Linked DNA regions of Homo sapiens: region 1 is linked to region 2. Evidence: fine-mapped expression QTL. Tissue or cell type: lung. Region 2 holds a variant in brackets; the other region holds the start of a gene. All regions are shown on one strand. Distances are from middle to middle.

The links. PIP is the estimated chance that this variant, and not a neighbour inherited with it, causes the effect.
Region 1: TUT4 starts here. The variant in region 2 is fine-mapped to the expression of TUT4 in lung (TOPMed, PIP 0.94).

The regions. Positions count from the first base shown.
Region 1 is chr1:52,549,987-52,557,986 of GRCh38, forward strand. TUT4 (terminal uridylyl transferase 4) reads right to left here and starts at 3,106. Exons shown (of 30, transcript NM_001009881.3): 1 at 2,945-3,106. It overlaps LOC105378723 (a long non-coding RNA gene), which reads left to right. Exons shown (of 4, transcript XR_007066083.1): 2 at 694-818; 3 at 1,371-1,420; 4 at 2,255-2,851. RefSeq lists silencers at 2,719-3,048, 3,119-3,248, 3,289-3,398, 3,409-3,808.
Region 2 is chr1:52,421,011-52,429,273 of GRCh38, forward strand. TUT4 (terminal uridylyl transferase 4) reads right to left here. Exons shown (of 30, transcript NM_001009881.3): 29 at 4,339-4,497; 30 at 2,265-2,992. The coding sequence ends at 2,925. Among named protein-coding and RNA genes, the nearest start is that of PRPF38A, 21 kb to the left of the region's middle. RefSeq lists an enhancer at 2,870-2,919. The variant A/C (reference allele first, on the strand shown) is at 3,209.

The DNA.
Region 1 (8,000 bases), 130 kb after region 2:
AATCTTTGCATTTATATACCCTTTCTTCTCCTTGGGCCTGTAAGAAATACTCCGGAGGAAAAGTCGGAACCTGCTTTTTCAGAGTGTGTGGTTTATTTGAATATAGTCTGTACATAATAAAATAAAGATTTAAAAAAGGAAAGAAAAATACTCTGCAGAAATGATGGTTTTTAAACATTTCCCCCAAATTATGTAATTATTTAGGATTCTAGAATTAAAACAATTCAGTTAGTACCCAGTAAACAACTCTAATTGCTCTAAGATTAATAACAAAAAGTCTACATATCCTGTTTTAAAGTATGGTGTCCCTTTCCTTTGACTTTTTTAGGTCTTTCTGGAATTGTTCTTTTTTAGAACGTATTTCTATCCTACTGCAGTGGCTTTAACTGAATTTAACATTTTTTAATCAATTCAAGTATTTGCAATTTATTTGAAAAAGGAACACAACTCATTGAGTTCTATTTTGTCAAACAAAATGTTCTGGCATCAACATTAACAGGTAAGTATTGCTTTTTTTTTTTTTTTTTTTTGTTTAAGACAGGGTCTTACTCTGTCGCCCAGGCTGGAGTACAGTGGCGCAACTGTGCCTCACTGCAACCTTGAACTCTGGGCTCAGGCAAACCTCCTACCTCAGCTTCTGGGACTACAGACGCACACCACCACGCCCAGCTAATTTCTTTTATTTTTTGGCAGTGACAAAGTCTCACTATGCTGCTCAGACTGATATCAAACTCCTACGCTCAAGCAATCCTCTCGCCTCCACTTCCCAAAGTGCTGAGATTACAGGCGTGAGTGAGCCACCTGGCCAGGCCCTACAGGTAAGTGTTGGTTATTTTGTTTCTCTGAAACTAGAAACTTTAACAGTGAATAAATTCAAACACCTTTCTTGATCAACAGATCCTGATTTGACATTCTGTAGAGAACACAACATAATTAATGGTACTTATTTTTATGTCAAGATTAACTTTGAGATAAAAAAGAATTCTAATTACTTACTCTAAAATGAATCTGCTGAGAGCTAATAAAAATTCTCTTTAAACAGCTCTTTGTTAATCAGAGAAATTTATAATTATACATTTTGATTCTAAAAGGTCTAAAATTAAAATGTAGACACTGTACTGTTCTAGCTCCAGCAACTAAAAATAAATGTAATTTTAGGTGTCACTTAGAATTTATAAACTTGAACTTATATGCATGACAATATTTGTTAATTTATCTGTACTAACAACTTGGCCTATGACAATGAAAATACTTTAAATTTCTTTTCTGTATTTAAATGTTTGCTGGATTTAAAACATCAAATGTCATTAACTTTCACTTCCATTTCTGAATTATTTTAAGAAAACTTCATTTTTCATTTTCCACACTAGCCAAGTGAAAAACTGCAAGCAGCAGAAAAATTTATCTAAGAGTTTTAAAAGTAAGTTTCTTTTGTTTATATTAAATATAAATATTTTTAAAGCATAAAACGACTTAAAATTCTTATCTTCCCCAAAGTATATGGTTTCTAAGAAGCAATCTTTAAAAATTTGTTTATAAAAGCAACATAGCACACTAGACACTAATGAGTTATCTTAAGCACAGCTTTTTAAGAGAATCAATATTTCATTTTACCAGTTGTGACTAATCAGTACTACGATGCAGTGTAGTGACATACATGAGTTCTAAGCCTAAAGAAAATTTCAGCGCGCTCGCGCGCGCACACACACACATACACACACACACACAAAGTCGGCTTTTCTTTTTAAACCATCCCACAATTCAACACCTCTCGGTGGTATTCTCTGAATTATCATATCTGGCTGGGATTATCCAATTTTATTAGCTAACAGTTCTCATTACTTTAAAAACAGAAACAGGATATGTTCTGTTTCATCAAGTGCTACAAACATTTCGCTGCTGTAAGACTGGAGGGAAAAAATCTTTGGAAATAAAAGGCCATCTGATCCACTCGGGCTAATTACTAAATGCATGCCAACAATACACAATTCGAATTGCATTTCTGGACACAATTTAAGATCACGATAGGGCAGGTCAAATGTGTAAGGAACTACTACTTCTATCAAAATGAAGAAGCAGATATACGGTATCTAAGATCTCACGCAAAATTCATCTAAGACTTCGAAATCTTCTGAAAAGAAAATGTGTAATCAACGTTGTTAATACAACAGTAATTCATCCCATTCAAGTACGACTAGAAATCCCGCTGATGTGCTTCTTTCAGGTCTAAACATCTCATTCTTTCGCAATCCAGATACCAACAGGAGTCTGAAACCCTTCGCAGAGGCGTGCAACACACTAGGAGAGCGCTATCTGTTTACAAATACGAATCTCAGTTACCCACGTCAAAACCGCGCATTACCACCTTTCGACTGGGGGGCGGGGGAGAGAGAAGGCGGGCGAGCAAGAAACAAAATCCACACAGACACCTCTGCCTTCTCCCTACAAGGACGAGCCCGGGGAAACATTCAGTATGTATTATATGCGTGTATACATTTATATACATTATGTAGTCACCTATGTCTAAGCAAGGGTGAAAGAAAAAGGTACACATGACAGGGAATCGTAACTGGACCCAACAGAAATGTTCAAACCAATCCCGTTAACTCAAAATCCGCCCCGCTGGTCTACAACAGGTTTCGGTCCGGGACCGGGAGCCCCAGCCACAGTGTGGAGTTCGTCCCCAAAGCGCCCCAATGCCCTCCTCAGGCCGCCCAGGCCGCCGTCCCCACCTCCCTTATCTCAGCCTTCCCCTGGGACACCCGAAGCCCGTTCCAGGAAAGAAAGAAGTGTCAGGCCCCCAGGGGGCGGCTGAGACGCTCTCAGGCCAGGCCCCCGACACCTGCGAAGCGCGGCACCTGGGGAGGGCGAACCGGGGGCCGCCCGGCCTTCCCGAGCACACCCCCTCGGTACCCGACGCTGCCCCGCGGCCGGAACCTCGTACCTGCGAGGCCCGCGAGCTACAGGCGCGCGCGACGCCTCCTCATCTCAGTGGCTCCTGCTCTCCCTCCGCCTCCTGCTGCCGCCGCCGTCGCCGCTGCCGCCGCTGGAGGCCGGGACACGACTAGCTCAGGACTCCACCGCCATGTCCGCCGCGCCGCGAACTGCATTGTGGGGGGGAAGGGATGGGGAGGGGGAGGAGGAGGGAGAGGGAGAGGGAGAGAAAGAGGAGGACCCGCTGAGGGGAGGGGGCGAGGGAGAGCGGTTGCCGGGGGAGAGGGGGAGGGGAGAGGACAGAGCCTGTAATGGGGTCCTGGCCCGGGAGAGGAGGAGCTACGCGCAGAGGGAAGGGTTCAGGGGTGCCCCCTCCCTTCGTTCGGGGGGCCCCACAGGCACCGTTTACACCGGGGCGGGGGAGGGGGGAAACAGCACTGGGGGGAGGGGTCTCGTGGTGGCCGCGAAGAAACAATGGGGAGAAGGCCGAGGTAGGAGGATCGCGCACTCACACCCACGCGGAGGGAAGGGAGCGCGCGAGAGACACTCGTTAGCTCGCGAGGAGGGGGCGGGCCGCTGGCAGAGGGGAGGAGGGAGCCACCCGGGGCTCGCGGGCAGGGGCGGGGCCGCCGAGCGGAGGTCGCGAGGTCCCGCAGCCCGCCTGGGCGCCGCGGGTTAGCCGCGCTGATTCGCCCGCTTGCCGGAGTGGGTGGGGGTGGCGGGCGCCCCAGTGCTGCCCCAGTCTGGTTCCTAGTCTCTGCCGAGGCCCCCGAGCTGGAAGCCGAGCCCGAGGGCCGCCTCGGCGCCTCGCTCCCAAGGCTGCTCCCCCTGGGGAGGAAGGCCGGCCTGGAATGGGTACCCTCTGGCCTGGCACTCGGACTGGGCGTGGCCCGAGCCTCGGCGGACCCTCGGAAGCCCAAGCGGGCTTCGGAGCAACGGTAGGGAGCGGGGCAGAGGAAGCCGCCAGGGTCGACCCCCACCCACTCACCACGGCCTCCAGCCCACCGCAGCTGGACCTTTTTTCCTTTGAAAAGGCAGGCAGTTCAGGAATGAAGGAGCTCGAAGAGAAATCTCTGGAGCACTCCATCTCCCACCCCCAAAAGAGGTTTTAGAAATCATTTCTTTAGCTGCAGGCGGGCATAAAACCATCTACCATCAATGGGCCCCCTCATCCCCTTGCTTTTAACGTATTACATTCCTCTACATAATTATTTAAAGTCACGGGCGGAACGGACTTAAGGTTTTGTTAGTTTTGTTTTTTGTTGTTTTTTTTTAAGACCCCAGCCTCAGAGATTATTTAGCCAATCTCTGACCTCAAAGCTGGACAAAGCACACAACCTCTGTGCTCTGTGCCCAGTCCTTTGAGTTTGACACATGCTAGGCAGGAAAAAGGTATGAAAAGAGTGGACGTAGAGGTGAAGGGAAGATGTTAAATCTTAAGTATTTACAAGATAGTGCCTTATAAATTTTCTTATAATGTGACTCAGGCTGGGACTGGTTAGAGGTCACAGAGGGACGCTCCACTTCACGATAGCCCTGTGAGTTACGTACTGTTGCTCTCATTTACGGATGAAAAAACTAGGGTTCAGAGTTAGTGCATTTTACCCCAATCTGGCTGATGCTACAAGGCCCAGGTATAATGGATAGAGGACTGGATTTCAAGTCAAAAGAGCCCTACCTGGTTTTGGCGTTTATCAACATGATGCCTTTGAGCAAATGTACCCTCTTGAGTTTCCTCATCTGCAAATTCTTAATCTGTATCCCTGCTTCGCTTGACTAGCCTGGAAACAAAGAAAAAATCCCTACTTCACCCGGCTGAAAGCCTAAAGCCTATAGAGACACTAAGAAGATACCGACATGCCCTTCAATTCAGTGATAGCAGTGTCCTTAGAACAAGTTCAATTGAGTAAACATTTCCTAATTACTTAAGAGCAAAGCGTTGTTAGGTGCCTAGGGAAACAAAGACAAATCATTGCTTCCTGTCTCCAAAAAGTTCCCCATTGAGCAAGCAGGTGAGCTACAATAAAAGCAACAGGTCTTATTAACAAAGGGCTGGGCAAATCCAGAGGAGAGTGTGATAAATTCCACTTTGGTGAGACTTCCGTGGAAGAACTAAAAGCTGGACCTTGAAGATCTGTCTGCTGTGTGCCAGACACATGTCTGTGATTCAGAGGGCAGCATTGACTCTGGAGTGTGCAGAAGATAATGAATCTGGAAAAGAAAACTGGGGCCAGACTGAAAATTTCAGTGCCTCTCTGCCCTTATCCCCTCCAGATACTCTCTTCTACTACCTTGCTTATTCCCCAAGACCCAGCTCAACCTCTACCTTCTTTATTAAATCTTCCTGATTACCACCCCTCCTCTGCACTCCACTGAATGTGATCCCTCTATTCTCTGAATTCCGTGACCCCAATAGATTGTACACTTCAGCACAGATACTTACAAGGTATTCCTTCTGATACCTACATAGTTGTCGAGTTGAAAATTTTGACAACTATAATTTTATCATCACAGCTAGAGCAAGTATGGTTCTGACACAAAGAATAAGGAAATTTATGGAGTATAAGGTTTAATTCATGCCCAGGGTCATACAGTAAGTCACAGGCTGGACTAGAATACCAGCCCTGTATTCTTCCCATTGAACCACAGGTTTTTGAGATATAAAATGGTAAATGTCTGATTTCTATGTAAAAATCCTCTGAGGACTTAAACTTTCAAGGGAAATCTCATGATTGTGGTTAAGCCTCCAGTCTGGAAGTTCTGAAAACTTAGTTTCATCCAAACCCAGGTGAAAATAACTTGCAGTAAAAATCTTATTTCATTGTATCTCATGAGGAATATAATTACTCAGTGGATCAATATTCATATTCTGTTGTCTTCCTAGGTGAATAAGAAAACTTAGTAAAAAACTAATAATATTGAATGAAAAGGTGACTTGGTAAGTAAAATTATAACAAGAAAGGTGCCTAGTCCCAGCACTTTGGGAGGCCGAGGTGGGCAGATCACTTGAGGTCAGGAGTTCAAGACCAGCCTGGGCAACATGGTGAAACCCCATCTCTACTAAAAATACAAAAATTAGCCAGGCATGGTGGTGGGTGCCTGTAATCCCAGCTACTCAGGAGGTTGAGGCAGGAGAATCGCTTGAACCCGGGAGGCAGAGGTTGCAGTGAGCCGAGATCATGCCTCTGCACTCCAGTCTGGGTGACAGAACAGGACTCCATTTCAAGAAAAAAGAAAGGTGCCTAAGTCTGTTCAAACCAAGTTTTGCTGTTTGATCATAAAGGGCCCTGTATGCCACTGGAAAAAAAGCAGGCTTTATATTATAGTTATTGGGGAATCACTGATCACTTGTAAGCAGAGATAAATACAATCAGACCTGCTAAGCTGTTTCTCTGAGCCCCATTTTTTTTTTTCCTGTGTACTTGATTTCTCCAAGGAGAGAGACTATAGGCCCTGGGTGATAATGATCTCTAGTGAAAAACAGTGCATCACCCCCATGATGTGGTCCTAACCAAGTCTCCTTTACCTTTGTATTTTCAGCACCCAGCATAATCCTGACACATATAGAAAGCACTCAGAAATTGCTTGTTGACACTCTAAATTGTCTATAAAGCATAAGATATGGTCAGTGTCTAAAATTTTTGTGATTCTTGCAAAGATCATGACAATACCAAAGCTCTTGAGGTGTGTGCTCACCTCAAGATAGTGTAAAGGATTTACTTCTCTTTGTCTGTTTGCATTCTTAAAAGTCAATGAGATGAAAATGTGTAAAAATGCCTATTTCATAGTAAATGTTCCACACAAATGAATTCCCTTTCTTCTTAAAATTTAGTTTCTTCTCATCTGCCCCATTTGGATTTCATGTGCCCTTAGACTCACACTAGCACATGTGTGTACTTTCTACCTGTTGATTCCATTTCATCTGTCCTGAGGATTCTATGCGTGGAATTTTAAACTACAGCCACACCCTGCAGCTTACTTCATTGAAACATTAGAAACAGTCAGTTTTTCTTAAGGTGGCATTTTTTTAAGTGAATAAGATTTTAGAATTTAAAAGGACATTAGCGTTCATAAAGTTAGAGATATCAAGAACATATATACATGGCAGAAGATGATGCTATAAAGTTAGACTAGGACCGCATCATTGTTAAAAAAGCAAGTTTTTATTCTGAAGTTAATGGGCAATCATGGAACATCTGTAAACAAGGAGAGAGATGTTCAGACTTGCCTTATACAGCAGGTGTTCGTCTGACTTCTGTTTGTACATTCATAGCTATAGAGAGCTCATTCCTTACCAAATCTGCCTGTTCCAGGAAAAAGAAGTACTTCCTCAACAGAGCTGGACTTTTCCTTCTGTGATACATATTTGTTGGTAATCCTGACCTTAGGAATAACATCAGCCTTCTTTATACATAAAAATGAGGGAGCCAGGCATGATGGCTCACACCTGTAATCCCAGCAATTTGGGAGGCTGAGGCAAGAGGATCAAGGCCAGGAGCTTGAGACCAGCCTGGGCAACATGGTGAGACCCCATCTTCAAAAAAATAAAATTTGGCTGGGCACCATGGCTCACACCTGTAATCACAGCACTTTGGGAGGCCAAAGCAGTTGGATCACTTGGCAATCAGGAGTTCGAGACCAGCCTGGCAAACATGGTTAAAATTCCATCTCTACTAAAAAATACAGAAGTTAGCTGGGCATAGCACACGACTGTAGTCCCAGCTACTCAGGAGGCTGAGACAGGAGAATCACTTGAACCTGGGAGGTGGAGGTTGCAGTGGTCCAAGATCATGCCACTGCCCTCCAGCCTGGATGACAGAGGGAGACTCTGTCTCAAAAAATAAATTAATTAAATTAAATTAAAAATTTAACCAGGAATGGTGGTGCATGTTTGTAGTCCTAGCTACTTGAGAGACCGAGTTGGGAGAATCACTTGAGCCCGGGGGTGGAGGCTTCAGTGAGTTATGAATGTGCCTCTGCACTCCAGGCTGGGTGACAGAGTGAGACCCTGACTCTTAAATGTAAAAAGAAAGAAAAGGGTGTGAACCAGATAAACTAGGGCAGGA
Region 2 (8,263 bases):
TAATAGAATAATTACATGTACACACAAATAGCTTTATCCCATCATCATTTTACACATTACATATATAATATGTATATATAAGAATAACTGGAAACAGCAAAAATGTCCATCTGTAGGGGATATAAACAAATATACAGTACATATTTATATTTTTAATAACCCTAATGTCAAGGGAAAATACTAATCTCCATGTCATTAAACAGAACATTTCAAAACAATTTGGTCTTAAATGTGTGTGTTCTCCCTGTATAAGATTGATAATTTTCTACTTAACTGCTCTACAATGAATCTGAACTCATAATCTACTTTGCAGACTTAAAATCTGAGTTTCTACTATATCAATTTTAAACTATATGTTTTTCAACAGAACAGTTTTGCCAATTATTGAACACTGGCAGTTACTGAAGGAGGGGCAAATGAGATGCTGAAAACTAGTATCTATAACACTATCATATAAGTAAAACCTAGGCTGTTGGTTACTAGGTTGCCAGTTAATAGGTTTTGCCAAGTGGTATTTTATACTGCCTTCCTTAAGGAAGAAAGGCTGAGGGGTTGGGGCATTCTGTTATTGGAAGTTGTTTTATTTTTAATGAATATTTCAAATACAATCCTCCCCTTGGTATCTGGTGGGGGGTTGGTTCCAGGACCTCCCGCAGATATACCAAAATCCAAGGATGCTCAGGTCCCTGATATAAAATAGTGTAGTCTTTGCATATAACCTATGCACATCCTCCTTTATACTTTAAATCATTTCTAGATTACATATAATGCCTCATACAATGGAAATTCTGTGGGAAAAGTTGTTATACTGTATTGTTTAGGGAATAATAACAAACTGTACAAGTTCAGTACAGACACAGTTTTTTTTAATATCTGCAATCCGTGGTTGGTTGAATCCATAGATGCAAAACCCATGGATATGGAGGGCCTACTGTATGTACAAAAGTAAAGAGAATAATAAACACCCCTGTATACGTCATTACCTGTTCTCCAAGATGTGGAAGGACATGAAGTATTGAATGTTAATTTAAATCTTGAATGCTCCAAGTCATTTTAACATGAATGCATAGTTGGGTCAGGTATCTTGTTAATAAATGATTTAAGTCCACCACTTAATAGGATTCTGAAAGATGCTGACGCTTTAATAAGAAAAAATAGTAAATATACCTAACTCAGGTTAGGTAAAAAAAATAGTAAATATATTTAACTCAGGGCTGTAAATACAGCATGAATACCCTCAACCTCCTGCAATAGGTTTCAAATATCTTCCATGTTGCAAAATATGGCAAGGGCCCAAGCAGTCTCCTATTTAAGTAATGTATATCAGAGGAAGCGCAGCAAAGATAACCCACTGTCCTTACATTTTTATCTACTTATTCTGCACCTTTCCAAATAGATATATAGCATCATTTAGCCTAAAATCCCAGGCAACTGGACGGACTAATTAAGGGGTTAGAGAAAATTACCTCACCTCACTGCTAAAACAGCTAAAACATTATGCCACCAACAACTCGAGTCTGAATTCCAATACCCAATAATAATTAATTCCAAGTATTACTGGTAAATAATTATCATCTTGGCAAGTGTGCTTTCCAGGTGGAAGTATAGGACTCAAAATGAATACAGTCTGGGCTGGGTGCAGTGGCTCAACGCCTGTAATCCCAGCACTTTGGGAGGCCAAGGCAGGTGGATCACCTGAGGTCAGGAATTCGAGACCAGCCTGACCAACATGATGAAACCCCGCCACTACTAAAAATACAAAAATTGGCCAAGTGTGGTGGTGCATGCCTGTAATCCCAGCTACTCGGGAGGCTGAGGCAGGAGAATCGCTCAAACCCAGAAGACAGAGGTTGCAGTGAGCCGAGATCATACTACAGCACTGCAGCCTGGGTGACAGACAGACTCTATCTCAAAAAAAAAAAAAAAAAAAAGTAATCTTCCCTCCACTCTAATTGCCAATATTAGTCTCAGTGTTTTAAAATTCTCTTTCCAAATACTTTTCAATTCAGACTCCAGCATTGTTTGCTTTTTGGAATTTACTGACTGCTTTGCATTTCAGTTTTTATTTTCAAAGATAAAATGGAAATGGCTTCCGCTTCTATCAACCTCATATGGGTGTTGTGAACATCCAACCAAATAAAGGATATGAAATGTTACTTGAATCTCTAAAACTAAAATCTGTGATTTAGAATGCTCTATTCACTGAAATTAAAAGAAATCTTGTTACGTAATATTTCCATCATCTATACAACAGATTAACCAAATTTAACTCTTGTCAAAAAGATTTATTAACTTAAAATAGAAGTACTTCAAATACAGACAAAATCAACTTTCCATTCAAGTTTGAATGTTCAATATACAAGTATGGAAAAGAAAAAAAATCTGAATCTTCATGTTGTAATTTTATTTTATTTTTTTACCTTTTAAAAAGTTTTTGGCACTACAAGGTTCTGTAAAGAATAGAAGTGACAATTTAAAACACATGAAATTCTTTCCTAACTTTTAAGAACAATATATAAAGTCTGAAGCAACCAAAGTATGAATACAGCTAATAGAAAATAAAGAATGTAATTTTTTAAATTCTCTCTTTATACAATTCATCAAGGTTAAACAAAACATAAAATTCCCTTAAAAATAGGGTAATAAAATAGATGAAATTTGTATCACTCAATTTGGTGATACTAGTAAAAACTATAGTTCATATTTATATACAAATAATACAGTCTGTAAAAACAGTCTTAGAATTTAAATAAGCTATCTAAACGTGTTAAAATTTTAAATCAGGACCTGATTTGTTTTGCTTTCCATTAAATGTCACTTTTTCTGCTGAATGTAACTGACATTGAGGTACGGATACCCTTGAGACAGCAGGATTGGCTGGTTGCTGTGCATCGGTAGACCAGCTGAAAGAAAATGGACTCGCATTACTCCGACACGTTTCCTCTTGGTGGGTGGGGACAACGCTCTCTACACCGACGGGTGGCACATCTGTCTGTTGGATACAACACAGACAGGAAACTGAAAGGCTTGTGCCTGTTTATCTGACAACACCTTAGAATTAACTTGTAGTTAGCTTTCTTTTTTTCTATTTATATAATAGGAGGTGATAAAGCATGCTGCAAAACATTTGAGAGGGTGGGGAGAAAAATGAAGAAGGGAAGGAAATACCTGTATGTGAAAAAAGGAGAGGACACGAAAGATGGAGAGG[A/C]GGAATCAAAGGGAAAAAACCCACTAGAAAAGAGTTGCAGACTCTCCCCTCCTAAAAGGGCTTATGACTAATAGTAACTTCCTTCAGCCCCAGTTCTTTGCTCAAGAGAAGAGCTCAACCACAGTCAAGGCTCTGCCACTCTACAATACAGGGATGCCCCAGTAGTATATGGGTGGTTTAAGAAGGCTTAAATATAACAAGCCTGAGACCATACCAGGCACTTCCCCTTTAAGTTATCATTTCATTCAATCAGCATTTCCTGAGTGCCTGTTTTAACTTCTTGAACTCCTAGTTTAACTATACTGACTCTGACCCAAGTGTTCTGAACTAAGTTAACAAAGAGCTGAAGGCCAGACTCAGACAATGCCTATAAGAACAAATACCTCTGAGGCAAGTAGGTTAGATAAAATGCTCCAAGTTTCTAGGAATTCTTTGTTTGTAATATTCATTACCCAGTCAAAGCCATTATTAGTACTACAATAGCACCAGCAGAACATAATAAATTTTAAGGTCATTCAAGTCCTACGTTTACTAAACAAATATGATTATGTCTTCGTTCCACTAAAAACCTTTAATTAGGTCCCCAATGCTCAGTAAACCAAGTCCAAACTCCATAATATGGTCTAAGCCTACCCTCTCTAGCCTTATCACCATCTTTCCCATATACCTCCGTCCTCTAGCCCTAATATTTTCTACTCTTTTTCATTATGCCAGGCAAAACTCAGTGACTGCATATATTAATCCCTCAGCTAAGCATACTCCTCCTCCTCTCTCATCTCTAGGCAAAAAAAAAATTCCTGCATCTCTTTCAAGATCTAGCTCAACTGTCAAAATCTTGTGATGTAATAATCTTAAATCCACATCCTGTTTGGATTTGCTAGGGCAATGTTAACTGATTCATCTAAACTCCTTTTCTATTTAACATGTCTGGCTTTCCTAATAAAGTGTGCATCAAGTAATGGAGATTTTGTTTTACAAGCACCTAGCACCATCTGACACACAGTATAATTTCTCAGTAAATGTTTACTGAATTCATGAATTTTCACTCCCAGATCCTGGCCTTCACTAAGGCTCTCTATCCCAGAATAAAACCCACCCAAGCCTGTTAACTAATTTGTAAGCAGTGGTACCTTGAGTATAGAAAGGTTTGTTGGGCTGGAATCGGGCATTTCCCTGATGCATGAAGTTTTGATGCAAACCATAAGGCCACGAAGCTGGGACAAGGGGGAAATGGGGACGCGGTGCATGTTCCCAAGGAATTGGAGGAGTCAGTCCTCGAAAGCCTGGCTCTGCATTTCAACAAGAGGGAAAAAGACATTTAAAAACATTAGTTCATTCATTGAAATATCCCTTCATTCCACAAAGATATATTCAGTACCTACCATTGGCTAAGAACTATGCTAAATTCAGAGAATACCAAACAAACTTTTTTAAAGAATAAAGCATTGGTATTTGCTCAAATTATTCATAAGAGACATACAAGAAGAGATATATATATACACAACAATATGTAATAATTGCTAGTAGAACAGGCAAAATGTTCTGAAGAGAGGGCTAACCCAGTCTTTGAAGGTTAGAGACAGTCTTCGTAAGATGATTGACTAATATGAGTTCTAGAAAACAAGGAAAAATTTAGGCAAAATAGGGAGGGGGTGGGGGGCATTTCAGAGAGAAGGAGTATCATGTACAAAAGCCTGAAAGCAGGAAAGCACATCAAGTTTGGGGAACTGCACAACAATCTGCAACATAGAGACAGGAGTGATGGAGGAAGTGGTAAGAGAAAAGGCGGGACAGGTAGGTGGGGATATACATTTCAAAAAACCTTAGTACATCATGCAAAGGAACTTAAGATTTTATCCTAAAGACAATGCCAACTATCCCAGAATCAATTATATCTTGGCCTGGAAGGAGATCCTATTACAAGCTTGAGGCATTGTGGCATAATGGTTGAGAACTTGGGCTTTGAGGCCAAACAAGTCTAAGCTCAAATCTCATTTCCTAAAACTACTAAGGTTCCATTTTGAACCTCAGATTATGAGGTTTAAATTGGATAACCAAAAGAAAGTAGCTTGCACAAGAGCTAGCATATAGGTAGGTACTCAAAAAATGTAAGTCCTATTCTTTTTATGGCTAACTATCCCCCCAAATCTATTTCCCTTTAAAATGTATCTTTAAGTACATTTTTCGAAGTGCAGTACCCAGTTTATATTCTGGATCATTCTGGTGGCTTTTCTCATTCAGAGTCACAGTGTGCTAGGGAATAAAAGGGAATAACTGCCCTTATTCACTAAACTTCTCAGCAGGAACTCAAATTAAGTACGGGATAGGAAAGAGTAGGCAGCAAAAAAAACTAAAGCCCGTGTGAACTGCATTCTTAGAAGCTGAATCTTCTCAGAAAGTAAGCAAACCAGCTAGTTCACTGTGAATTCATAAAAGCCAAGTTACAACTAAGGGCTGAATCTGAAGGGCTCAGGGTTTACAAAAATAAGTGAAACTGGTATATCCAGAATTAGGTCATAACCAAATGAGAAATGATGTTTTAACATAAAAGGGTATTTTTAAAAGATATATTCCAATCCCCTTTGCCTGTTTTTCATAACCCAAAATTTCCAGAAAATGAGTAATACAATCTCATTAAAGATAATTTGAAAAATGGGGGAAAAAAACTCATAATAATCTCCTCCGATACAACTATGATTATTATTTTAATATATTTCCATTCAGTCCTTCCATTTTCAACACAGTGTAACTGTAGCTTTAATAACAATTATGAATTGAGTATCTATACAATGAATAATATTAAGTATAGCTTATTAGATAATAATACTATATAACAGGAACATGGCAGGCTACTAAAGAGAAAACTAAACTCACTACTAGACAGAAAATGACAGACAAAAAACAATTTTTTGCTTCTAGAAGTTCAGTCTAATGGGTTATGCAGATGAGTAAACAGACAATTTCAGCACAGTAAGACAAATGTTATGATATGAATACTAAGAAAATGAGGATTTCCTGAAGAAAGTGATCTAAATTTAAAAATGGAGGATGAGTGAGTTAGCCAAGCTTTGAGGCAGCACAGAAGAAGGTGAGAGTGAGCAGCAGAGGTAACGGAGAGGACATTCCAAGCAGAAGGAACAACTTAGATAAGCAACCAGGGGTAAGAGATAGTACAGTATGTTTGTGGGACATTAATTAGTTCACTATGACTAAAACACTGAGAACAACAAGTTGCAGGGGGATGGAAGACTTCAAATTATAAAAATGGAGCTGATACATCAAAGGGCAAAACACTGGGTCTGTCTTCATGGTTCTATAACTCAGTGACTATCACAGTGCATGTCATGGCATATACACAATAAACATGTTGAATGATATATGAGAAGGACCATGTATGCCATATATCCTCTGATCTTAGAAATCTAATTAAGTTACCATATTCTGGCATTTTTGCTCAGCAAAATACCTTACTTGCATTGTTCCAAAAGAAGCTGGAGACAGCAAAATAATGGATACTGGCAACAATTATCAATGGCAGCTAAGGCTATTAAGTAAAAATGATGAATTTGATAATGGGTAAAACAGGCTGATAAAACCTAACTCACAGATCAATCTTAAGTCACTAAAATAGTTACAACCAGACAGTAAGTTCCTTCTGAAGTGAGGAAACTGGAAATACACGGACCCACCAAGCAGCATTCTTACCAACAGAAAGAGCCTGAATCTAATCCAGTCTCTGAATCTAAATCCCAGTTTACAGGAAATACAGGGACAGAGGTACACATTAAATGATGCCACAAAGACATAATCAGCCAACTCCAGAATATGGGAAATTCTACAGTGCCTTATAGTTAATATCGGAAAAAAAACAGAAGCAGCAACTGTTATAAAGGACAGTTAAGAGAGATAAAAATCAAAGAGATATAAAAACCAAACACACAGTTTTAATTTTGATTCAAATAAATCGATAATAGGAATACTTTTTTAGGCTGGGCACAGTGGCTCACGCCTGTAAATCCAGCACTTTGGGAGGCCAAGGCAGGCGGATCATGAGGTCAAGAGATCGAGACCATCCTGGCCAACATGGTGAATGAAACCCCATCTCTACTAAAAATACAAAAATTAGGGCCAGGCGCGGTGGCTCACACCTGTAATCCCTGTACTTTGGGAGGCCGAGGCAGGCGGATAATTTGAGGTCAGAAGTTCAAGACCAGCTTGACCTACATAGTGAAACCCCGTCTCTACTAAAATACAAAATTTAGCTAGGCGTGGTGGCAGGCGCCTCTAATCCCAGCTACTTGGGAGGCTGAGGCAGGAGAATCGCTTGAACCCAGGAAGCGGAGGTTGCAGTGAGCTGAGATCGTGCCACTGCACTCCAGCCTGGGTGACAAAGCAAGACTCCCTCTAAAAAAAAAAAAAAAAAAAAAAAAATTCCGGGCATGGTGGTGCGCACCTGTAGTCTCAGCTATTCGGGAGGCAGGAGAATCACTTGAACTCAGAAGGCGGAGGTTGCAGTGAGCCGAGATTGTTCCACTGCACTCCAGCCTGGCAACAGAGCGAGACTGTCTCAAAAAACTATATACTTTTTTAGATAAACAGGAAAAACTGAACAAGGACTGGGTATTAGATGATACTAGGTATGGCAATGATCTCATGTTTTTTTTAAGTGACACAACTGAAGTTAAAAAGCAAATTTGATGCAATGTCTGAGATTTGATCAGTCAAGTCAAAAATATTTTTAATGGCTAGGAATCCGATAAAAGAATAGCAAATTATTGATAACTGTTAAAGTTGGTTAATGGGGAGGGGGGTTCATTATATACTTTACTGTCTTTTGTGTATGTTTCAAAATTTCCATAATAGGTTTTTTTTTTTTTTTTTTTGAGATGGAGTCTCGCTCTGTCGCCCAGGCTGGAGTGCAGTGGCACGATCTCGGCTCACTGCAAGTTCTGCCTCCCGGGTTCACACCATCCTCCTGCCTCAGCCTCCCGAGTAGCTGGGACTACAGGCGCCCACCACCACGCTCAGCTGATTTTTTGTATTTTTTAAGTAGAG